7 linked regions of the Homo sapiens genome follow. The protein of the gene in region 5 interacts with the protein of the main gene of each other region in a pairwise test. Each region holds a gene or a part of one and is shown on either strand. Other genes may lie near its edges.

Region 1 (3,500 bases), on a different chromosome or scaffold from region 5:
TCTGTCGCCCAGGCTAGAGGACACTGGCATGATCACAGCTCACTGTAGCCTCAACCTCCCTGGGCTCAGGTGATCCTCCAACCTCAGCCTCCTCAGTAACTGGGACCACAGGCACACACCACTAATTTTTGTATTTTTTTGGTAGATATAGGGTTTCACCATATTGCCCTGGCTGGTCTTGAACTCCAGAGCTCAAGTGATCCGCCTGCCTTGGCCTCCCAAAGGCTGTCAGCCACTGCACCTGGCTGACGTCAGGAGCTATTAAGGTAACTAGGAACTATTGGCACTATAGATCAAATGGTTCCAGATTTGTTATGGCATGTACCCCAAGGCTTTCTTCTATAAGAAGTGTCTTCTTGGCTGAGTGCAATGGCTCACTCCTGTAATCTCAACACTTTGGCAGGGTTAGGTGGGAGGATCGCTTGAGCCCAAGAGTTTGAGGCTACAGTGAGCTATGATCACACTAATGCACTCCAGCCTGGCTGACAGAGTGAGATCCTGTTCAAGCGATTCTCCTGCCTCAGCCTCCTCGGTAGCTGGGATGACAGGTGTGCACCATCACACCCGGCTGATTTTTTATTTTTAGTAGAGACGGGGTTTCACCATGTTGGACAGGCTCGTCTTGAACTCATGACTTCAGGTAATCCAACCACCTCGGCCTCCCAAAGTGCTGGGATTACAGGCGTGAGCCACCGTGCCCGGCCTTTATTTGTATTTTTAGTACAGACAGGGTTTCAATATACTGACCAGCTGGGCTCGAACTCCTGACCCCATGTCATCCGCCCACCTTGGCCTCCCAAAGTGCTGGGATTACAGGTGTGATCCACCGCACCCGGCCTGGGAGTCCCTTCTATATCCCTAAAACAAATTCCTCTTTTCACTTTTGCTAGAATGTACAATTTTCTGTTCTTTATAATGAAAAAAATCCAGAGAAGCCAAGTAAATATAGTATGGAGTAAAAGTGAAAGCAAGGTTGGTCTACAGCTTGGGAAAAATGTATGACACTGGAACCTCATGCTGTTTTACTATCAGGCCCAAATGCTATGCTGTTTCCCCATTCATGTCACCCAGTGGATCAAGGCTACCTCAACCACTGGCCTTCTCTTGTGTGATAACTGAGTTACGTACCTCCAGGAAGTCAAAGAGGAGGGTGGCTGTCACATCTGACAAGGGCTCCATGTTTAAGATCTGTGCCAACCAGCGCCATCCATGATTTAAGCCATGAGGGTGAATCTGGGAGTAGAGAAGCTTGGTTATCATTGATCTCATTTTGTTTAGAAATCTAAACTCCCAGTGTATCATCCAGCCATTACCAAGTGGAAATGAACCCCAGATCATCCAGCCCTAGCACCTGCCACAGGGCAGAAATAACACAAACTAAACAAATTCTGTTTTTCTTTTATTTTTTTGAGACAGGGTCTCACTTTGTTGTCCAGGTTGGAGTGCTATAGTGCGATCATGGATCACTGCAGCCTTCACCTCCTGGGCTCAAGTGATTCTTCCACTTCAGTCTCCCAAGTAGCTGGGACTACAGGCATGCACATGCCACCGTGCTCAGCTAATTTTTTTGTATTTTATTTAGAGACATGGTTTCACCTTGTTGCCCAGGCTGGTCTCAAACTCCTGGAGTCAAATGACCCACCTGTCTCGGCTTCCTAAAGGGCTGGGATTACAGGCATGAATCTACCTCGCCCAGCCTTCTGTATTTAAATGTTTCAGTACATTGGTTCCCACACATTCTTTTTTTTTTTTTTTTTTTTTTTTTGAGGGAGAGTTTTGCTCTTGTTGCCCAGGCTGGAGTGCAATGGCGTGATCTCGGCTCATTGCCACCTCTGCCTCCTGGGTTAAAGCGATTCTCGTGCCTCAGCCTCCCAAGTAGCTGGAATTACAGGTGCCCACCACCATGCCCAGCTAATTTTTGTATTTTTAGTAGAGACGGGGTTTCACCATGTTGGCCAGGCTGGTCTTGAACTCCTGACCTTAGGTGATCCACCCACCTCAGCCTCCCAAAGTGCTGGGATATCAGGCCTGAAGCTACCTCGCCTTCTATTTTTTAATGTTTCAATACATTGGTTCCCACACATTCTTTATAGGCTCCCTTCAATATGCATGTGTCAGCTTCAGTTTCAGGCATTCCATAGGGTAACAATTAGCCTTATTGACATTTTATTTATTATTCTTGGTACCTTTAGCACAGAACCTGGGACACAGCAGGCATACAATAAAAACTTGGATTTAATCAACTTCTATTTTTTCTCTTTAGGTCTCCGTAACTATTAATTTCTCTGTCCTTCTAATCTGTATTCCCTGAGAAATTAATTGGGCTGGCAAGTCAAAGCCCTGAACCCCAGCTGCAGCTTTCTGAGCTTGTTCTGTCCATCTGTGAAGTAAGGTATGTGATCTAGATGGCTTCTAAGGTCTCAACTAGTTCTAAGATGACAATTTCTTGCTCATTCCTCTTGTAAGAAAATCTTCTAACCTTAATGACTGATTTATAACAGACTCTCCTCTGGTAGACTCTGTTACAAAACCAGCTCTTTAAAGTACCAGGTGATCCAAGAAAGTTCCCTAATAATCAACATTCAGTCCTCTACATAATACCCATGAAACTGCCATATAGTTTATCCTTTAACTAGACTGGCTCTCTGAAAGAAGGCCAACATTTCCTGTGGGAGGAATACACATGGACTGTGGTCTAACCTCTCATTATTGACAGTAAGCCTCTTTTACCTACCTCCTGTCGGTTTCCATATGGCCACCGGAGCTGGATGATAGCAGCGTAGAGACGGATCATCCCTGACATGCGTTTTAGAAAGTTGTCTTGCTGCTCCACTTTGGAATCCTTTACTTGGTAACCAAGCATCCTATACGGGAAGAAAAAATTTGGCCGGGTGTGGTGGCTCACGCTTGTAATCCCAGCACTTTGGGAGGCCAAGGTGGGCAGATCACTTGAGGCCAGGAGTTCAAGACTAGCCTGGCCAATGTGGTGAAACCCCATCTCTACTAAAAATACAAAAATTAACTGGGTATGGTGGTGCATGCCTGTTTGTCCCAGCTAATTGGGAGGCTGAGGCATGAGAATTGCTTGAACCTGGGAGGTGGAGGTTGCAGTGAGTCAAGATTGCATCACTGCACTCCAGCCTGGGTAACAGTAAGACTGTGTCTCAAAAAAAAGAAATAAGAAAAAATTCACTGGGACAAGGCCAAAATAAGGGTGACAAATTAGAGATAAATTGCTTTTTTTTGGGAAACAGAGTCTCTGTCACCCAGGCTGGAGTACAGTGGTATGATCAAGGCTCACTGCAAACTTCACCACCCAGGTTCAAGTGATCCTCCCGCCTCAGCCTCCTGAGTAGCTAGGACCACAGGCACATGCCACCATAGCCGGCTAATTTTTTTTTTTGAGATGGAATTTCCATCTTGTCGCCCAGGCTAGAAAGCAATAGCACGATCTCAGGCAATCTCCGCCTCTCGGGTTCAAGCGATTCTTCTGCCTCTGC
Region 2 (3,500 bases), on a different chromosome or scaffold from region 5:
AGGTGATTATTTCCTTAAATTATAGACAATAATTAAAAGCCATGTATTGAGTTCTTGAGGCATGTGCTGATCTTATTCATTAAATATTAACGGAAAGTAATCTTGGCTTATATAACTTTAACCATTATAATTGCAGATATGTCTTACTTTGACCTGATTCTTATGTACATTCCCATCATTTAACTCATCCCCTTTGGTTCTGATTCTGTCTTCTACATGTAGTATCTCATTAGACTTGTACTTTTCCTGTGGGTCTGCTTAAAGGGAGAGAAATCAGTCATTTAACATATACTCATTGAGTGCTTACTATGTGCCAGACACTGCTTAGAAACTGGGCACAGAGTGAGAAGGTAACAAATAGGGTTTCTACATGCCTAGAACCTACAGCTAACTGGGGGAACAGACTTAAAAATAAACCCACAATAAGTACTTAATCACAAATTACAATAAATACTCTAAAAGAAAAAAACAGGATGCTATTTCATTGAGTAGTCAGGGAAGGCCTCTGAGAAAGTCAGTAATAGTGAAATCTGAAGTGGAAGTAGGACATAACCAAGCAAAGAGTAGGGAAACAGTATTCCAGGAAAAGGGAACAGTAAATGTCAAGGATCTGGCAGAAAAGATTTTGGTGTATTTGAGGAACTGGAAAAAAGGTCAGTTTGCCTACGGTATTATATAAAATGTTAATTATAGATGAATAGGCAGGAGTCATCATTTATGCGCCATGTTAAATAATGTGGAGTTTATCTAAAGTTCAAATCCAGTACCTTAGGTTTTGCAAAGGCAGTGTGACATCTAATTTTTATTTTTAATAGATCACTCTGGTTGTTTTGGCACAGAATGGATTGTACAGGGACAAGAGTGGGCAGAAGAAATCCAGTTAACAGGCTGTCCATATAGAAGATGAATTGGTCGGCCAAGACAAACAGGTGGCAGAGGAAATATAGAAGTGAGAAGACCTGTCTCATCTGAGCCTTGAGGAATGATTATATAGGAGTTGTATAGGAAAGTGTGTTGTTGTGGAAGTCAAAAGCTGGCTCTAAGAGAAGAAAATAATCAGGTGTGTCAGCAACTTTACAGGTTGAATTAGATAGGAATGAAAAGTATGCCAAATTGATAGGGCAGTTTAGTACTCATTTTTGACCTCTGCAAAAAGAGTTTTGGTGGATCCAGAAGCTATGTTGAACTGGACCAAAGAGTGAGTAAAGGCTTTATTCTGTTTTTGGCATATATTTACTGCTGAAGACTACTAAAATGATAGGCTTATAGGTAAGAAAATATCTGCTTAAAATCTTTGAAGATATGCTAGGTAAGTTATTATCAGGATAAAACTATACAGAAGTGAAGTACTGAAACTTAGTTTTACCCTTAGGACCCTTTGTAGAAGCTACCCAAAACGGGTAAAAACCATAAACTCAGGGACCATTCAAAACTGTGGATTCCCATAGGATTCCTTTTCCCATTTAATTGGTACCCAAAAGTGCACCAAGATCTCACAGATCACTACTAAATAACTTACTCGTGTAACCAAATACCACCTGTTCCCCAAAAATCTATGGGAGAAAAAAGATACCCCAAAAGAATACACTTACAGTGGAAGAACTAAACTTGCTTCCTACCTGCTCCCCAAGGGACTCTGTAAAGAATATTTTTCTGGCTGGCGCAGTGGCTCACGCCTGTAATCCCAGCACTTCGGGAGGCCGATGTGGGTGGATCACGAGGTCAAGAGATTGAGACCATCTGGCCAACATGATGAAACCCCATCTCTACTAAAAATACAAAAATTAGCTGGACATGGTGGCGCGTGCCTGTAGTCCCAGCTACTCGGGAGGCTGAAGGCAGGAGAATCACTTGAACCCGGGAGGTGGAGGTTGCAGTGAGTGGAGATCACGTCAATGCATTCCAGCCTTGTGACAGAACAAGACTCTAACTCAAAAAACAAAAAACAAAAACAAAAACAAAACAGAATGTTTTTCTGGTTGTGCTGAGCAGAATAGAGAGGAAAAAATTGGGCTAGAAGTTGTATTCATGCAACCCAAGTTCATACTCTGGGTGACTAAAGGAAGCACTAGTTGTAAATTTGATGTGATTGTGGTCTCTTAGTTTCCCAGACACCTAGCATATGAAAATAAAGATTTTTTGTGTATGAAAATATTCACCTTTATCTTAGACCTCCTTTATTCACATTATATTGCAAGGAAAGTTAGCAGCACATAAAGTGAATAATCTAACAAGAAAGTGAGATCTCGCATGTGAGAATGAGCAAAAGTAACAGGCAGCAGAAACATACCTTAAAATAATCTTTTTTTTTTTTTTTTTTTTTTTTTTGAGATGGAGTCTCTCTCCGTCACCCAGGCTGGAGTGCAGTGGCACCATCTCAGCTCACTGCAACCTCCGCCTCCCAGGTTCAAGTGATTCTCCTGCCTCAGCCTCCAAAGTAGCTGGGATTACAGGCGTGTGCCATCACACCTGGCTAATTTTTTATGTTTTTTGTAGAGATGGGGTTTCACCACGTTGGCCAGGCTGGTCTCGAACTCCTGACCTCAAGTGATCTGCTTACCTCGGCTTCCGAAAGTGCTGGGATTACAGGCGTGAGCCACCATGCCTGGCCCCTTAAAATAATTTAGATAGTCAGATTATTAAACAAAATATGCAGTAGCTAGGCTTACTGTGTTTAAGGAAATAAAAATATGTGTAGAGAAGAAGAAATCCTAAAGAATAACGATAGAACTGGAAGTAAAAACAATTATGATTAAAATTAAGAACCAAATCAATTGAAGGGATTAGCAACAGATTAGACAGAATTAGAGAATTAGTCAATTGGAAGACTGTTCCCAAGAATTTATTCAGAAATTTCCACAGAGTAGCAAAGAAATAGAATATATGAAAAGAGGATACAGAATGATTTTCTACAGTCTTTGCTATTGGTTGGTAAGTTTTAATCAAGTTTTGTAATTTAACATCTAGTAGATTTTATTATAAAGCTTTTTATTTGTTTTTGTTTTTTTTTTAAAAAAAGGTAAGCAAGAAACTTGGAATATAGGATAACGGAGAAGGTCTAAAATATACATTTAGTCAGAGTTCCAGAATGAAAGGGTAGAGAGAATGGGGCCAAGTCATTATTATAAGAGGCAATTAGGACCTCTACAGAACTGAGGAGAGGTGTCAGAGTTTAGCCAGAAAAAAAAGAGATTACTTTCAAGAAAGAAGAATCATTAGACAGCTGATAGCTAGTTTCCCAACAGTGACAACCAATAGACATTGGAATGATAGCTTTAATTTGCCAAGGGAAAATAACTATCAACTGATAATTGTAGGCCTTGCAAAAATATCTTTCAGTAAGAGTGTAGAATATGAGAAATGGCCACCAGCAGAGTCTCATGAAAGAAAGTCCCAAAGGGTAGAATAAAAGTGATTTTACCTATCAGAGACACAGAAAGGACTGCAGAGCAAAACAAGTAATAAATACATGAATAAACCTAAGTGAATATTAACTGTAT
Region 3 (3,500 bases), on a different chromosome or scaffold from region 5:
GAACATATATCAATTCAGTATGTAGGCACTCAATCTTCACTTGTTATAAAGGGGTTTTGTTACAGAGGGCTTTTAAACCCTCTCTACAAAAGCAGTTTCAGTTGGTGTATTTTCAGGTGAATACATCTTGTCTTACAAACACACTTTGGAACTACATACTTTTAAGATAATCTAGTGTGAATTTATAACATTTGAATATAACATGTATTGAATATAATTTCATACTCCCAAGTTCGTTTCACAAAACTTAAAAAAAAGTATTAGAATTCATTTGCTTATTTACATCTTCCCTCACTGACAAAAGGAATAAAAAGGACCAGACTACGGTTAATCATAAGTCATTAACGTACACTTGTGAGTCAAGCGCAAAATTTCAAGCATCTTGTGTTGATAAATCTGTATTTCTTTTTTATTGTTATTATTGTTTTTGAGATGGAGTTTCGCTCTTGTTGCCCAGGCTGGAGTGCAATGGCATGATCTCGGCTCACTGCAACCTCTGCCTCCCAGGTTCAAGTGATTGTCCTGCCTCAGCCTCCCAAACAGCTTGGATTACAGGCATGCATCACCATGCCCAGCTAATTTTGTATTTTTAGTAGAGATGCGGTTTCACCATGTTGGTCAGGCTGGTCTCGAACTCCTGACCTCAGATGACCCACCTGCCTTGGCCTCCCAAAGTGCTGGGATTACAGGTGTGAGCCACCGTGTCCAGCCTAATAAATCTATACTTTTATAAGACCATGCATTACTGAGCTAATACAATTTTTGTTCTTTTTAGAAGAGATGTTATCTCTAGATCAGTTTACTGACTCCTTAAACAGGCTCTTCTTTGTTTCCTTATCTGGTTAGTCAATATTGAGAAAGAGGAAAATGTATTTCTAAAATATGGCTAATAGGCTGGGTGCGGTGGCTTACGCCTGTAATCTCAGCACTTTGGGAGGCCAAGGCAGCCGGATCACTTGAGGTCAGAAGTTTGAGACCAGCTTGGCCAACATGGTGAACCCCCTCATCTCTACTAAAAATACAAAAATAAGCCAGGTGTGCTGGCACACACCTGTAATCCCAGCTACTCAGGAGGCTGAGGCAGGAGAATCTCTCTTGAACCCTGGAGGTGGAGGTTACAGTGAACCAAGATCACGCCACTGCACTCCAGCCTGGGTGACAGAGCAAGACTCCATCTCAAAATAAATAAATAAATAAATAAAATACGGTTAATACATCCAATTATGTATGAAAACCATCATTTTATAATTTAGTTTTCATATTTAAAGGAAAATATGCAGATTAAAAAGTGACCTGCTCAAAGTACTAAAATAAAAATAAGTACATTTAAATATAAATATTTACTATTCTGGAGAATAAATACCATCAATTACCTGATGTTCCTGTGTTTGTACTCTGGAAAAGTGAACCTCCCAAACCAGCTAAGGCTCCCCCTAAAGAGAGGCCTGTTGATGCAGTTGTAGTTGTGGCTGTTGTCCCACCCAAATTATTTAGAGTAAATCCTGTGGATGCTATAAAAAGAGAGATAGTAAGCTTTCAAAAGGCAACTTATTTAACAGCACCATAGAAAAATACAAATACGATGTTTTTAAAAACTGACATCCATGATAAAATTGGCTCTTTGGAAGAACTACTTGCTAAAAATTACATACTTAAGAATAAAGAGAAATAGCAGCTTCAAAGCAAAAATCTGCGACAGAAATAAGGGCTTTGAGGAGTATTAGAATGGTACCAGGTAACTGATTCTAGATAGCAATATTGTCTTCAACCCAGGCCACCAACTTCACCTTCATATTAAATGAATCATAAGCCAGGCAAGGTTTATGCCAAGTCTTTGTCTTCCCCTGTCACTAAATGCCTCCTTCAAAACAAAGTCAATATTAACAGCTTTACATTTTACCTCTCTAGCCCTCTCCCCTGCTTTGCTCTCTAAATAGGGACATCAAGACAGCCTCTCCTGCTTCAATGCTCAAAGCTGAATTTTCTTCTTTATAAATCAATAATTTCTGTAGTAAGGTGACTATCTATGTTCTCTAACCAGATAAAATTGAAATTTAACCATTAAATGCAACGGTTTTTCATTCTGCCTCACCTGCTGGAGTTGATGTCAGAGCAGACGAAAGAGTCAGACCGCTAGCTGAGGTAGAGGTAATAGGTAGAGCAAATGGTGTGGCAGATGCTGCAGGTTTATTGAATCCTAAACTGAAGCCTGTTGTAGCTGCAGATGTAGTGGCTGGCGTTCCTATTTAAATAAATAAATGAATAAACAAACAAACAAAAATCCTACTTTACCTGTAAGTGTTCTATTATACTGGTTTCAATAAGGATCCTTAAAAGTTCATGATACTACCTTTTGCCAATAGAAGAAGGGTGTATCTGTGAGAGAAAATATGTAAAAGTTGAGACTAAACCATGGTGAACACAAAAAAGATGGCTCTTTAAGAAAAACAAAAGAATGGCCAGGTACAGTGGCTCACGCCTGTGATCCCAAAACTTTGGGAGGCCAAGATGGGCAGATTGCTTGAGGTCAGGAGTTCAAGACCAGCCTGGCCAACACGGTGAAACCCTGCCTCTAGCTAAAATACAAAAATTAGCTCAATGTGGTGGTGCACACTTGTAACCCCAGCTACTCGGGAGGCTGAGGTACGAGAGTCACTTGAACCTGGGAGGGGGAGGTTGCAGTGAGCTGAAATCGTGCCACTGCACTCCAGCCTGGGAGACAAGAGTGAGACTCTGTCTCAAAAAATAAAAAAACAGAAAAGAAAATCCAATCGATGTAACATATCAATTTTTATTCTACTCCTAGATTTACCTCTAATGCAGCATTTATCCTCCTCCTTTCCCTCTCAGCAGAAAAATGGTCCCTCCTCTCTAATACTCTATCAATAACCATTCTCTATTCCTTTCTTCTGGCCCTTGTGTCTCTGTCAGCCCCCAGCTGTCTCCCTATTCCTTTTCAGTCCTTTTTTTCTGTAGCTCTCTTTCCTCTGTTCATGTCTTAACTGACACTTCCTAGAGTTCCATTCCTACCTCCTTACTTCCCCAATGACACACCCACTTTCATCATTTCTCCTACAGGTGATTAAGTCTAAACTGACATTTACCTAAGTCCTCATTGTCTAGTTCTATCTTGATGTCCCTTTGGCCTCCTACATATCTCACCACAAACATTTTTTGCTATATCTCCAACCTTGCTCAGTTCAATTGCTTAAGCCAGAAACCAGTCATCCTTGACATCCTTTCCTTCTCCTGTACTCCATTAGTTACAAATCCTGTCGATCCTACTTCAGAAATATCCTGTACTACAAGCATCCTTAAAAACCTTAGCTTAGGCCATATCTCTCTTAAGAACTACTACAACAGCATTTATTTCTCTGGTATCAGTCTCTTCTAACCTCTAATCTATTCTTAAAATTATCTTGGTTACCTTAAAAAAAAAAAAAAAAAAAAAGACAGGTGCCGTGGCTCACGTCTGTAATCCCAGCACTTTGGGAAGCCAA
Region 4 (3,500 bases), on a different chromosome or scaffold from region 5:
TTATCAAAATTTAAAATTTGAGTGCTGCAAAAAGCACCATCAATGAAGTAAAAAGACAACCCACAGACTAGGCGCAAATATTTGCAAATCATATTATTATATCTGATATAGGTCTAGTCTCTAGAAATGTACTCTTACAACTCAAGATTAAAAAAGATGAGTAACTCAATTTAATAGTAGGCAAAGGATTTCAATAGATTTTTTCCAAAGATATACAAATGGCCAATAATCACATGAAAAGGTGCTCAACATAATTAGCCAGTAGGAAAATGCAAATCAAAACCACATTGAGATACTACTTCACACTAAGAAGGCTAAAATATAATAAAACAAAACAAACAAAAACCGGAAAACAGCACGTCAGCCAGGATTTGGAGAAGTTAGAACCCTCATACATTGCAGGTAGAAATAAAAAATGGTGCAGCTGCTTTTGGGAAATAGTTCGACAGTTCCTCAAAAGGCTAAATGTAGAGTTACCATATAATTCCACTCCTAGGTATATACCCAAAAGAATGGAAAATGTGTTCACTCAAAAACTTGTACACAAATGTTCATAGCAGCAGTCTTCATAGTAGCCAAAAGGGAAAAGCCCAAATGTCCATCAACTGATGAAAGGATAGACACAGTGGAATATTACTTGGCTATAAAAAGGAATGAAGTTCTGATACATACTTCAACATGGATGATCTTTGAAAACAGTAAGTAAAAGAAGCCAGTCACAAAAGGCTCCTTTTGTGTATGATTCCTTTTTTATGAAATATCCAGAATAGGCAAACCCAAAGGAACAGAAAGTAGATTAATGGTTGCCAGGAGCAGGGCAGGGGAGGATGGGGGATGAGGAGTGATTGCTAACAAATATGGAGTTACTTTCTGGGATGATGAAAAGGTTCTAAAATTAGATAGTGACGATGATTGCACAACTTTGTGAAGATACCAAAAACCACTGAATTGTATACTTTAAAATAGTGAATATTATGGCATGTGAATTACATCTAATTTTTTTAAAGAAGAGATTCAATCCCAGGTCTGTCTGACTCCAGGGTGTAAACAGCAAATCACTATACTATACTAACAACTGTGTGATTATATAGTATTTATAAATTCTATTGGATTGCTTGTTCCTTTCAATTGTTTTTCTAGGTCAATGATTCCCTGTCTAGGTTTTGCAATACCCTGGGATATCTCTAGTGATCAATGAGTGTTACAAAATTCTCAGCTCCCAATTTTTATTCACTTTAAAAAGTATATAAGTGACTCCTGAAAAATATTTGACTCCTATTATCATGAAATACTTTTAGCAGGAGGAAGTGGCATGACAAAAATTAAACAATGGCAAACTGTTGCAATTTCAAAAAGTTTGTGAATCACTAATCTATACAGAGTTAGAGAGTATGCTAAGGATGAAGACAGGATGTGAATCTGATAGGGTGCAACTCAATGACAGGTAATCTTGAAAGTTTTTACAATTTGTCATAAAAACGCATTGATGAAATACCTGAGAGGGCACGATCAATTGCCATATTAAGAAACAAATGTCCACATCCACACACCCTGATTAGTTCCCTTCCAAACCATTTAGTTACTGCCATATATAGTCAGATATGTATGTTTGTTTCTGTATGGCTTTTCTTTACCTTGTGCCTTACTACAGGGTGAGACCTCTGAAAAAAGAAGTCGATGAGCATAAACTAGAAGAAGGTACCATTGGGCTGTATAACTGGGTAGAAATACAAAAGGAGTTTTGATGAAGGTGATTAAGATAAAAAATAATGGGTCTGGCGTGGTGACTCACACCTGTAGTCCCAGCACTTTGGGAGGCAGAGGCAGGCAGATTGCTTGAGCCTAGGAATTCGAGACCAGCCAGGGCAACATGGCAAGACCCCATATCTACAAAATATACAAAAATTAGTGGGGTGTGGTGGCATGCACCTGTAGTCCCAGCTACTTGAGAGGCTGAGGTGGGAAAATCGCTTGAGTCCAGCAGGTCGAAGCTGCAGTAAGCCGTAATTGTGCCACTGTATTCCATCCTGGGTGACAGCATGAGACTTTGTCTCAAAATAAATAAAAATAAAAAATAAATTTCAAAAACGTAAAAATAATGCATCCTACACTTATGAAATAAAAGACTGATTTCAGCATTGTCCTCCAAATCTAGCCTTTAGCTAACTCTGATCAAGAGAGAAGTCGTGATCTGTACTTTGCATAATTCTATTATTTCAAAGGTTACTTGAGCATAATTAAATGCCCACTTAATTAACAATTATTATTCCATCTAATTTTTTTTCTTCCGGGTCTGCAAAGCATGTATCTGAGCTCCCACTACCTTCCTGAGGAGTTATAGTATTCCCTTCATAGAAAATCCATGAGTGTGAAACCAAGCCTGATCTCTGGGCTGTAGATTGAGAAATGAGCTGAGCTGTAGGTTTTTAAAAAAAATATATATATATATATATAAAATAAACATTCTTCAGGATATTAAAATTAATGTCCCATGAGTTCTTCCTTAAAGTATTAGAAACTGTCTCCCTGCCTTGGGGTAAGGAGCAAATGAGTCCTGGCCTAGTCTGATGTTTCCTCAACTGTAAAATGTTCAAGCTAAACTAGAATCACCAGACGATCTCTTTAAGATGCTTTCCAGCTCTGACATCCGATTATTATAGAGCTCTTGCTATCTGTTACCACATAAAAAGACAGCTTGGATTATTGTAAACTAGCTCCTAAAAACACAACTTTTATTTATTAGTGTGACTAGGAAGGCTAACAAGTGATAGACATCACAGCCACTGGAGCAGGACATAAACAAAATGCATTACTAAGATGCTCAAAGTACAGTGGTTTTTGTCTGTTGTATCTCAAAAAAGACATAATGGATGTTCCAGAGGACAACTAAAGGGGAGAAGAGTCCCATGGGAATATAAACTAATGAGAATATATTTGGGGGCTGTAAAAGAAACCAAAATCCAAATTCTAGAACACCATGATTAGAAAAGAACCCCTTGAAGCTCAAAGCAGATCATTTTGGAACACAAAAGGCAACCAATGCATCGAATTCACACACTATAGGATAAGAACTGAAAATAGAAACCTAGACAGAAGAGGCTAGGTGGTCAGTAATAATAATTGATAATAGCCACCTTACATTTGTATATCAATTTATACTTTTCAAATTATTTCAAAGCCATTATCTCATTTGACCCTCATAATACAGCCTGGTTGTAGTCCTGGATCTAAACCAAATTAGCCGAGCAATCCTAGGTACATTTAAACTCTTTGGGCCACAGCTTTTTCATCTATCAGATGAAAAATACCTGCCCTGCCCATCTCACGGGCTATTGTGAGGATCAGACGAGGATAAAATAAAAGTATTAGTTTACTTTACAAATACAGGTATTCTCATCATACATTCATAGATTATAGAAACAAAGCAAGTTATTAAGAAAAGCCAAAAATGTTTGGAAATTCATCCCAAACACATGGTTGACATAATGGCAGACAATCAC
Region 5 (3,500 bases):
ACTCGTCAAGGCCAGAGAAAGAACCTCCAGAAATCAATAGACTGAACAATTTCTGGAGCTCACACAAGGCTGGGAATAATTTTCAATCTTGCCAACCAGAATGGAAAAATGTCGTAATATGTCAACGTCAGGTAGGGTAATCAGAAGGGTATATTACTTTAGAAAATGGGCTAAGTTAGCCCTAGATTAAAGGCTGCTCTTGAGCCACTCTAACTAGGCTTTATTTAAGCCTCAGAAGGAACAAAATGATGTCATACCATGTTAACTGCATGCCAGAGTTAAATTCAATAGAACTGAAAGAACTACAACAAAATCCAGCAAATACAAAATTCACCAATATGAATTCATCAGTACAAACAATATGAAATTCATCATATTTGGCATCCAGTAAAAAATTACCAACCAGAAGAGACAAATCTCCAGGGCAGCAAAATTTCAAATAATTTACATTAATACACTACCCTCAGGGAGAGGGAGCATAACTATCCCCTCCTTAAGCGTGGGCTGTGCACAATGACTGCCTTCCAAAGTATACAAGTATAGAAGGAGGGAAAAAGAGTACAGTGGAGAAACCTGACAGACACTTCCTCAGCCAGGTGATTAAAGTCAACATCAATAGTCATAAATCATGTTGACGGTATGAACACTTAATGTGATGTGATGACAATGACACTTTAATGCTACTGTCTTCCTCTCCCAATTAATAACCCAAATTTTATGAGGAAAACATCAAACAAATTGCAATAGTGCAGCATCCTTACAAAATATATGACCAGTACTCCTCAAAACTATCTAAGTCATAAAAAATAAGGCAAGCCTGAGAAACTGTCACAGCCAAGGGGCACCTAAAGAAAATGACAACTTAGTGTAATGTGGCACCTTAGATGGAAACCTAAAACAGAAAAATGACATTAGGTAAAAACTAAGAAAATCTAAAGGAACTATGGATTTCAGTTAATAATGTATCAATTTGGTTCATTAGTTGTTAAAAATGTTAAATCTAAGATGTTAATAATAGAGAAAAGTGAGGATGGGGCATATAAAAAACTCTATACTATCTTCTCAGTTTTTCTGTAAAATTAAAAAATCTAAAAGTGTCCTAAAAAATAAAGCCCATTAAAAAGAAAAAGATTACTAGCCATACAAAGCAGCAGGAAAATATGACTCTCAGGAGAACAATCAAACAATAAAATCAGGCCCAGAAATGACAATGATGATAGAATTAGCAGACAAGGATATTAAAATGGATAAATGTCTTCCATTTTTTCAAGAATGTAGAGGAAGGCATGAACATGGTGAGAAGAGATAAGAAAGATATAAAAAGACCCAAATGAAACTTCTAGAAATGAAATGTATATAAAATGAAAATATCTTGAACAATATTAACAGAAGGTTAGACCATGCAGAAGAAAAGATGAGAACTTGAATAACAATAGAAACCATTTAAAATAAAGTGTGAGGTGAAAAAAGGCTAAAAAAGTACTGAATATCGATGACATGAGACAACTTGACAATATCAAGTTGTCTAAAATATGTAAAATTAGACTCCAAGAAGGAGAGGAGAAAAGGGGTTGGTAAAAAAGTATTTGAAGAAATACCAGCTGATATTATTCAAAATTTGATGAAAATTATAAACCCTTAGATCCAAGCAGCTCAATGACGCACAAGCAGAATAAATACAAAGAAAATCACACCAAGACCACGTATAATCAAATTGATGGAAGCAAGTGACAAAAAGCAAGTCCTAAAATTAGCCAGAGATGGCCAGGTGCGGTGGCTCACGCCTGTAATCCCAGTACTTTGGGAGGCCGAGGCGGGCAGATCACGAGGTCAGGTGATCGAGACCATCCTGGCTAACATGGTGAAACCCCATCTCTACTAAAAATGCAAAAAAATTAGCCGGGCGTGGTGGCGGGCACCTGTAGTCCCAGCTATTTGGGAGGCTGAGGCAGGAGAATGGCGTGAACCTGGGAGGCGGAGCTTGCAGTGAGCCGAGATTGCACCACACTCCAGCCTGGGTGACAGAGTGAGACTCCATCTCAAAAAAATAAATAAATAAAAATAAATTGAAAAGGCAAGCCATGGAGTGAGAAAAAATATTTAAGAAACATATATCTGATAAAGGATTTGTATCCTTTACAACTTAATAATACAACAATTTAACAAAAATATAGACAAAAGTTTGAACACAACCAAAAAAATATATGAATGGCAAGGAAGCACCTGAAAGGACGCTCAACAGGATTGCTCATTAGGGATATGCAGCCGGGCACCACGGCTCATGCCTGTAATTTCAACACTTTAGGAGGCTGAGGTGGATGGATCACTTAAGGCCAGGAGTTCAAGATCAGCCTGGCCAACATGGCAAAACCTCATCTCTACTAAAAATACAAAAATTAGCTAGGCATGGCAGTGCGCGCCTGTAATTCCAGCTACTGGGGAGTCTGAGGCGCAAGAATCACTTGAGCTTCGGAGGCAGAGGTTGCAGTGAGTTGAGATGCACCACTGTACTCTAGCCTGGACATCAGAGTGAGACTCTGTCCCACCCTCCCACCAAAACAAGAGATATACAAATTAAAACCACAATAAGATACTACTATACATTCAATAAAATGGTTTAAATTAAAAAGATTGACAATATCAAGTTTTGGAAAGGATATAGAGAAACTGGGATTTTCACTAATTGCAGGATGGATAAAACTACCATGGACTACCCCATGTCCATCAACTGGGAAATGAATAAGTAAACTGAATAAATAATCATGATTATTGATACATGGAACAACATAAGTGCTCAAAAAGCATTATGCGGCCTGGCGCAGTGGCTCATACCTGTAATCCCAGCACTTTGGGAGGCTGAGGCGGGCAGATCACGAGGTCAGGAGATCGAGACCATCCTGGCTAACAGGGTGAAACCCCGTCTCTACTGAAAATATAAAAAAATTAGCCGGGCATGGTGGCAGGCGCCTGTAGTCCCAGCTACTCGGGAGGCTGAGGCAGGAGAATGGCATGAACCCTGGAGGCAGAGCTTGCAGTGAGCAGAGATGGCACCACTGCACTCCAGCCTGGGCAACAGAGCGAGACTCCATCTCAAAAAAAAAAAAAATTATGCTAAGTGAAAAAAACCAGAAGACACAAAACACTACATAATGTATGCTATCACTTAGACAAAAATTTAGAAAAGACACATTTAAAGTGAAATAAAACATGTCAGTGAATGTTAGAGGCTGAGAGTAGAAGGAAGAGATTGATTTCAAAGGGGCATGTAGGAACTTTTTGGAGTGATAAAAATCTTCTATATTTTGATTATGGAGAGGTTTACCTAAGTGTATATATACATCAGAACTCATCAAATTGTGCCCTTAAAATTGGATAATTTTACTCTATGTTAACTATATCTCAGTATAGTTGATTTTTCTTCAATGTCAATTACCTGGAAAAATTTGCGATTTTTCATTAAATCAGGGATATATTTGTGATTTCTCATTAAATCAATAACC
Region 6 (2,548 bases), on a different chromosome or scaffold from region 5:
TGAAACTTTACTGCCATGGAAATAACCAGGGCAAAAGATTGGTGTGAGGCAGAAGGCTAATTCAAGTTGGGATTTTTTTTTTTTTTTTTTTGAGACGGAGTCTCGCTGTCACCCAGGCTGGAGTGCAGTGGCGTGATCTCGGCTCATGGCAACCTTCGCCTCCTGGGTTCAAGTGATCCTCCTGCCTCAGTCTCCTGAGTACCTGGGACTACAGGTGCATGCCATCACGCCTGGCTAATTTTTGTATTTTTAGTAGAGACAGGGTTTCGCCATGTTGGCCAGGCTGGTCTCCAACTCCTGACCTCAAGTAATTTGCTGCCCTCGGCCTCCCAAAGTGTTTGGATTACAGGCATCAGCTACTGCGCATGGCCTGAGTTGGAATTTTTAAAAGTAGATATATTAGCCAGCCTGCCTCTGCATGGGATGAGTGCGGCACTGGTTCTTGGTAGGTTTTTAGAAAAATAAGATATAAATGTGTAATATAAAGAAAAAGATTAACATTTTTTTAAAAAGTAGATTTATTAAAAAACAGTTGAAGGTCTGAGTGTTGAGAGGCAAATGGGGTCTCTGGGGGATCCTGTCCTGCAGCAGGCCTGACTTTCAGATGACTGTGCTTATAAGGCAGATCAGTGCCTTCCTGGTTGCCTTAGTTCTTTCCATTTCAGACACCACATTTGGATCCTGGGGCAGCTGCTCAACTCTACCCAACTCTACCATGGCTACCTGGGATTGGAGAACATGTGAGTATTAGCTACTTTTACAGTCAAATAGGGATCTTGTAGAAGAAACAGGTAGACAGACCCACCAGTCTCTCATTCTGACCTAGCAAGCTGGTGAAGTCACTGTCGGTCCTAGTTCCCTTGTTTGTTGGGCTGCAGGCCCATTCCAACACAGCCCAACTCCCCCCCCCCCCCCTTTTTTTTTTTTTGAGATGGGGCCTCACTATATCGCCCAGGCTGGTCTCAAACTCCTAGGTTCAAAGGATCTTCTAGCCTCAGTCTCCTGAGTAGCTGGGACTACAGTGCGTGCCACCATGCCTTTTTTTTTTTTTTAATGAGACAGGGTCTCACTATGTTACCTAGGCTAGTCTCAAGCAACCCTCCTGCCTCAGCCTCCCAAGTAGCTGGGACTACAGGCACAAGCCACTGCACCCAGCTCCAACTCCTTTCTTTATGCAAATACAAAAGGCAAACCTTGGTGCGACACTTAGTCCTTAGTAGCAACCCTGGCTCATCCTCCTAGTCTTTCCCTAGTATTTGCATCAATGGCTAACTAAGCTGATGGCAGACCTCATCCTGGGGTAATACTCATTCAGGGAAGCAGCAACAAAGGAGGGTGGGGAAAGAGGTCAGGTCAGATTTACCTAACATGATATGTAGCATAATAGGTGCCCATTAAATCTCAGCTACTAGTAAAGTTGGTGAGGAAGAGGTATGGAGGCGTTAAGACCTGAAGCACTGAGTTGGTCCATAACCCTGGGCTTTAGAACAAGGTCTGGTTTTATTTTCTGGCAGAATCTTTTAAAATATAAAACAGATAAAACACATCTCAACCCTGCAATCTGCCAGCATGCCTTGTTTCTACAAGATGCATGCTAGACCATGAGACTACATAGCAAAGGGTCTTTAAGAGGATTTGGTTGGGAGAAATAGAAAAAGCAGATCTTAGGGAAGCCTGGGCTAGCCCAAAAGCTGAGCTACATCCCTGAACACTAGAGCAGTCCTTGTCTTTTCAGATCCTCGTATGTCTTCTTATTCACAACATTCCCACTTGAGTCTTCATATTCTTCCTGAAAAGGAAGGGGTACACTTTGTTAGACAGCTCTCCTAAAAGAAATGTTTGGAACCAATCTCTAAGTACCTGAGCTCATCCTGGCCTGATTCCATGGCATACTCTGGTACACTAAGATTGGCATTCATCTAAGCCTTTCTCAACTGGGGTTCCACAAGAGAATTAAGTCCCACTGCCCCAAAGCAGCCACCGTGTGCAATGAATTAACTTCTCTCGTAGACATCTAGAATGATATCAGTCATGACCCATCATTAGAGTATCTGAGAAAATAGTTTATTTAGCTCTCTATGTTTAAGATGGGGAACCCTGGTTGAGAAAGGCTGACCTACAACAGCAGTTTTCAAATGGTTCCCAAGAATCCCAGGATTCTGCTCAGAGGCCATTGCAGGGGTTGAAAGGGAAGCCAGGAAGTCTGAGCTTCCCCATGTCCAGGGCAATTCTGCTTGATTCTATTTTATATATCAGAGTACTATATTACAAGTGGAAGAGAGTTTTGCTGCCAAAAAGAAAAAAAATACTGAAAACCACTGACTCAAAAAAAGGGAGGCTATTGTCAGTTACTATGGGACTTGGAGTGAGTCAGTACCATTCCTTACATACATGTCATTCTTGATCTCTGAAACCTGCTGCTTGGGATGACCATCATAAGACCAACAAGGACATCTCCCTGTCGCTATGAGAGTATCATCTCTCATTAGATGCTTTCCTCAAAGGAGATCTAATACATGATACAGAGTCTCGGCATTTTAGTCTATAA
Region 7 (3,500 bases), on a different chromosome or scaffold from region 5:
CAACCTCTTGTCCTACAGCTTCTCCCCACACCAGCCCCGGGTGCTGAGAAGCTTCTTGGTGTGAGTGCTTCTCAACCTTGAGCAGGGGTCAACATCCGCTGGGAGCTTGTTAAAACATGGATTGCCCGATGCCACCGCCTGTGTCTCTGACTCAGTGGGCCTGGGGTGGCACCCAGGAGGTTGCATTCATCCCAAGCTCCCTGGTGATGCTGCCACTGTGGTTCAGGGAGCTGAGAACGACTGGCTTATTGAGGGGACGAGCCCATGCCCTAAGTGAGGAGTCAAGACCTGTCATCCTTCCTCAGATGGCTCAGGCTGAACACTCGCCCTGGGCAGGTGCAGGGGGAAGCGGGGGTGACTTACCACTGTGGCCAGCTCCCGGTCTTCTGTGTTGTACGTGCAGGAGGTGATGAGCACATCTCCCTGAGGAAAAGCCAATGTGACCATCAGCACCTGCCACCTGGCGTTGGCAGGTGCTGGAGGCCTCGCCCCCATAGGACCACGCCACTGTGCATGCCACGGCACCTCTGGGGTACAGTCCCTGTCGTCCACTACAAGGAGCCCAGCAGATTCATGTGCGAAGGTCACAGGCTGAGTGTTCCCGAGCAAGTTATAAACCATCAGCTCCTGTGACCCAGTGGGTCACAACAGGGCCAGGGCCCAGGCCAGTGGGGGTGCAGCTGGTGGGCCATGACACATCTCAAAGGACTTGGGCAAGTCCCCACCGAGGCCTGGGCTTGGCCCTCTGTGGGATCAGGGCTCCACTGCCTGCCTTAGTGCCCTCATCTCCCCCAAACACTCTCGGGTTTGTGGTCGGCCCATCAGACTGAGGACACGCGTCCCCTGGGAGTGTCCTGTCTGCTCCACTCTTTCCAACGTCTCTCCATGAACTCCTGAGTGAGTCTCCCCATGAGGTAGCCCAGCCCAGAGCCACCCACAGGCACCCTCCCCCTGCCCTGGATGGCTCTCCCTCCCCCTATCACTTTCTGTGTCCCTCTCCTTCTGGTGGCACCCCCAGCCCTCTCAGCCACCCCAGCTGGTGGCAGTGAGTGGGACAGCCTTCCCGCTGGGCACTCACCGGATGGACCGACACGACCTTCTTCAACATGCGGATCTCCTGGGGCAGGCAGAGCCGAGGGGTGGGGGAGAGGAGACCTCAGAGAGCTGCAGACCAGACCCCCGGCCACTGTGTCCTCCCTCAGGCCTCCCTGACCTCTGGGGGTGTCCATTTTGCCCCAGCCTCTACAGTGGAAGCCAGAGCCCGCTAAGTGTGGCTTCTGGCCAGGGAGGGCATTAGATTCAAACCAGAAGGTGGTTATCCAAGACCAAGATTGATGTTCCCAGAGGGCCGCCTGGGTCTCCCGAATCCCACCACCATCTGCCATGTGCCAGAGGCCTCCCTACGATCAGACACCAGACACCCAAGTGGGGAGCACAGGCCACATGGGTGGGGGGCGGGTGGGGCTGGCCCAGGAAAAAGAAGCCAGCCTGGAGCCATCCCTATGGTGTCAGGAAACAGTAGACCCAGGAGGTCGTGTGGTGGCAGGGTGTGGGGGCGGGGCAGGGGTGGGGTGCAGGTTCCTACCTGGAAGTGAGGGCTGTAGTGATTGTCCTGGTTCACGATCTCCCACTCCCGGCCGTCCCGGACCAGCACTGTGACCACCTTTCTCCCAGTCAGGTGTGTGTGGAGCTGAGAGGCGAAGATGTGGATCCCGGAGGGAGGCAGTGCCTGTGGGGTCGGGGGGCTGCAGTGTCAGGGCCTGACCCCCGAGGGGACCCTCCCGTCCATGGCCAGGACCCGGTAGGGAGCAGCCACCCTGGGCAGTTTGCTTCCCTGGAACACTTGCATTTTCTAGGTCTTTCTCCCCGGCCAGGTTAGAGCCACCATCAGAAACCTCACGGGGAAGAGCGAGGGGGCCGCAACAGCCCCCAGCTCCCAAAGAAGCAGCCCCTAGTCCCACTCAGGAGCGACTTTCTTTCCGAGTCCTTCATCCTCTCCTGAGCCCCTGAAGCCTGACAGGTTCATCTTCACTCAGTCAACAGGCCTTTAAGGCGAGCCTCCCGTGGACAGGGTGTGGCAAAGCCACCAAGCTGAGCAGCGCGTGGCCTCTGTGCTGAAGAGCTTGCTGTCCAGGGAAAAGCAAGTGGCAGAAGGTGGTACTTGGCAGGTCCCCTACGTGGTGGGCCGAGCAGGACCTTCAGCTGCCCTGCGTTGTGGCTTCCTTTCAGCTTCAAAGCAGCCAAGGCTGCATTCTCCCTGTGCTCAGCATCACCCCGTGCTACAGCTGGGAGCTGTAGCTACAACTGGAAGGTGGTCATCCAGGACCAAGATGGATGTGACCATGGGGTGCTGCAGCTGGACACTCTGAGGCTGCAGGCCGGCCTCACAGAAAAGATGGCAGCCCTCATCTCAAGAGGTCTTATGCCATCACTGGGGCATGAGAGAATCTTCCAGAGAACGAAAGTTTTCTCTAACCTAATGCTAACTTTTTTTAGATAGAAAATGCATTTCCATGGCTGGGCATGGTGGCTCATGCTTGTAATCCCAGCACTTTGGGAGGCTGAGGCACATGGATCATTTGAGGTAAGGAGTTTGAGAATAGTCTGGCCAACATGGTAAAACCCCGCCTCTACTAAAAATACAAAAATTGGCCGGGCATGGTGGCACGTGCCTGTAATCCCAGCTACTCAGGAGGCTGAGACAGGAGAATCACTTGAACCCGGGAGGCAGAGGTTGCAGTGAGCCAAGATTGTGCCATTGCACTGCAGCCTGGGCAACAGGAGCGAAACTCCATCAAAAAAAAAAAAAAAGAAAGGAAGGAAGAAAGAAAAGAGAAGGAAGGAAGGAAGGAAAGAAAGAAAGGAAAGAAAAGAAAGAAAAAGAAAAAGAAAGAAAAAGAAAAGAAAGGAAAGAAAAGAAGGAAAGAAGGAAAGAAAAGAACACGTCTTTCCTGAAATCGAGCATTTTCTTTGTGAGTCAGTTGTCCTTTTGCCCACCCGCTGCCAGGCTCTGCCCAGTTTGTTCATGCAGTCAGCAGGTCCCAGAGCTCAAGGTCCCGACAGCCCCATCCCTGAAGGTCCCAGATGGCCGAGCTTTTTAGGACTCACTTTTGCTCCTTCCCTCTCGCTCCCAAGCAGCGGCCGCCCTGACCTTGCCGTCGCCTATAGCTTTGTGTCCCTTGCAATGGCTTGAGAGGCCACTGTGTGCCAGGCCTGGGAGCCCAAAGGGTCCCAATGCCCCTTTGGCCCCCAGAGGCCGACCCTGGCCCAGAGATGCCAGGTGTCGGCCAGGTGGAGGGAGGACTATGCTCTTCTGGGCACTCTGGTCCAAAGCAGCACTCTTGTCTTGGCCTATTTCACTGGGATAGCTAGACTAGGCCAGATTTTGGCTGCAGAATTTGTGCCCCTCTTTTATCTGCCAAAGGAGAGACAAGACTGAACATTCTCATTCTGTTACTTAAGGTAGTGGAGGACTCTGGCAAGGGGAGGCGGGTCTGTAT

The links.
Region 1: the proteins of TRIM69 (region 5) and GLE1 interact in binary tests that used the Homo sapiens proteins (3 or more experiments, as listed by UniProt).
Region 2: the proteins of TRIM69 (region 5) and LARP1B interact in binary tests that used the Homo sapiens proteins (3 or more experiments, as listed by UniProt).
Region 3: the proteins of TRIM69 (region 5) and NUP58 interact in binary tests that used the Homo sapiens proteins (3 or more experiments, as listed by UniProt).
Region 4: the proteins of TRIM69 (region 5) and MID2 interact in binary tests that used the Homo sapiens proteins (3 or more experiments, as listed by UniProt).
Region 6: the proteins of TRIM69 (region 5) and SF3A3 interact in binary tests that used the Homo sapiens proteins (3 or more experiments, as listed by UniProt).
Region 7: the proteins of TRIM69 (region 5) and DBH interact in binary tests that used the Homo sapiens proteins (3 or more experiments, as listed by UniProt).

The regions. Positions count from the first base shown.
Region 1 is NC_000009.12:128,535,719-128,539,218, reverse strand, and holds part of GLE1 (mRNA export factor GLE1), read right to left. Parts: intron 2,865-3,500; coding exon 2,735-2,864; intron 2,393-2,734; exon of another isoform or gene 2,264-2,392; intron 1,234-2,263; coding exon 1,129-1,233; intron 1-1,128. UniProt on the Homo sapiens protein: Required for the export of mRNAs containing poly(A) tails from the nucleus into the cytoplasm. May be involved in the terminal step of the mRNA transport through the nuclear pore complex (NPC).
Region 2 is NC_000004.12:128,123,812-128,127,311, forward strand, and holds part of LARP1B (la-related protein 1B), read left to right. Parts: exon of another isoform or gene 1-58; intron 59-815; coding exon of another isoform or gene 816-884; exon of another isoform or gene 885-1,677; intron 1,678-3,500.
Region 3 is NC_000013.11:25,311,625-25,315,124, reverse strand, and holds part of NUP58 (nucleoporin p58/p45), read right to left. Parts: intron 2,243-3,500; coding exon 2,093-2,242; intron 1,512-2,092; coding exon 1,374-1,511; intron 1-1,373. UniProt on the Homo sapiens protein: Component of the nuclear pore complex, a complex required for the trafficking across the nuclear membrane.
Region 4 is NC_000023.11:107,832,366-107,835,865, reverse strand, and holds part of MID2 (probable E3 ubiquitin-protein ligase MID2), read right to left. Parts: intron 1-3,500. UniProt on the Homo sapiens protein: E3 ubiquitin ligase that plays a role in microtubule stabilization. Mediates the 'Lys-48'-linked polyubiquitination of LRRK2 to drive its localization to microtubules and its proteasomal degradation in neurons.
Region 5 is NC_000015.10:44,760,528-44,764,027, reverse strand, and holds part of TRIM69 (E3 ubiquitin-protein ligase TRIM69), read right to left. Parts: intron 1-3,500.
Region 6 is NC_000001.11:37,956,475-37,959,022, forward strand, and holds the end of SF3A3 (splicing factor 3A subunit 3), read right to left. Parts: intron 1,790-2,548; coding exon 1,712-1,789; 3' UTR 501-1,711; downstream 1-500. UniProt on the Homo sapiens protein: Component of the 17S U2 SnRNP complex of the spliceosome, a large ribonucleoprotein complex that removes introns from transcribed pre-mRNAs.
Region 7 is NC_000009.12:133,649,863-133,653,362, reverse strand, and holds part of DBH (dopamine beta-hydroxylase precursor), read right to left. Parts: intron 1,730-3,500; coding exon 1,586-1,729; intron 1,118-1,585; coding exon 1,079-1,117; intron 424-1,078; coding exon 364-423; intron 1-363. UniProt on the Homo sapiens protein: Catalyzes the hydroxylation of dopamine to noradrenaline (also known as norepinephrine), and is thus vital for regulation of these neurotransmitters.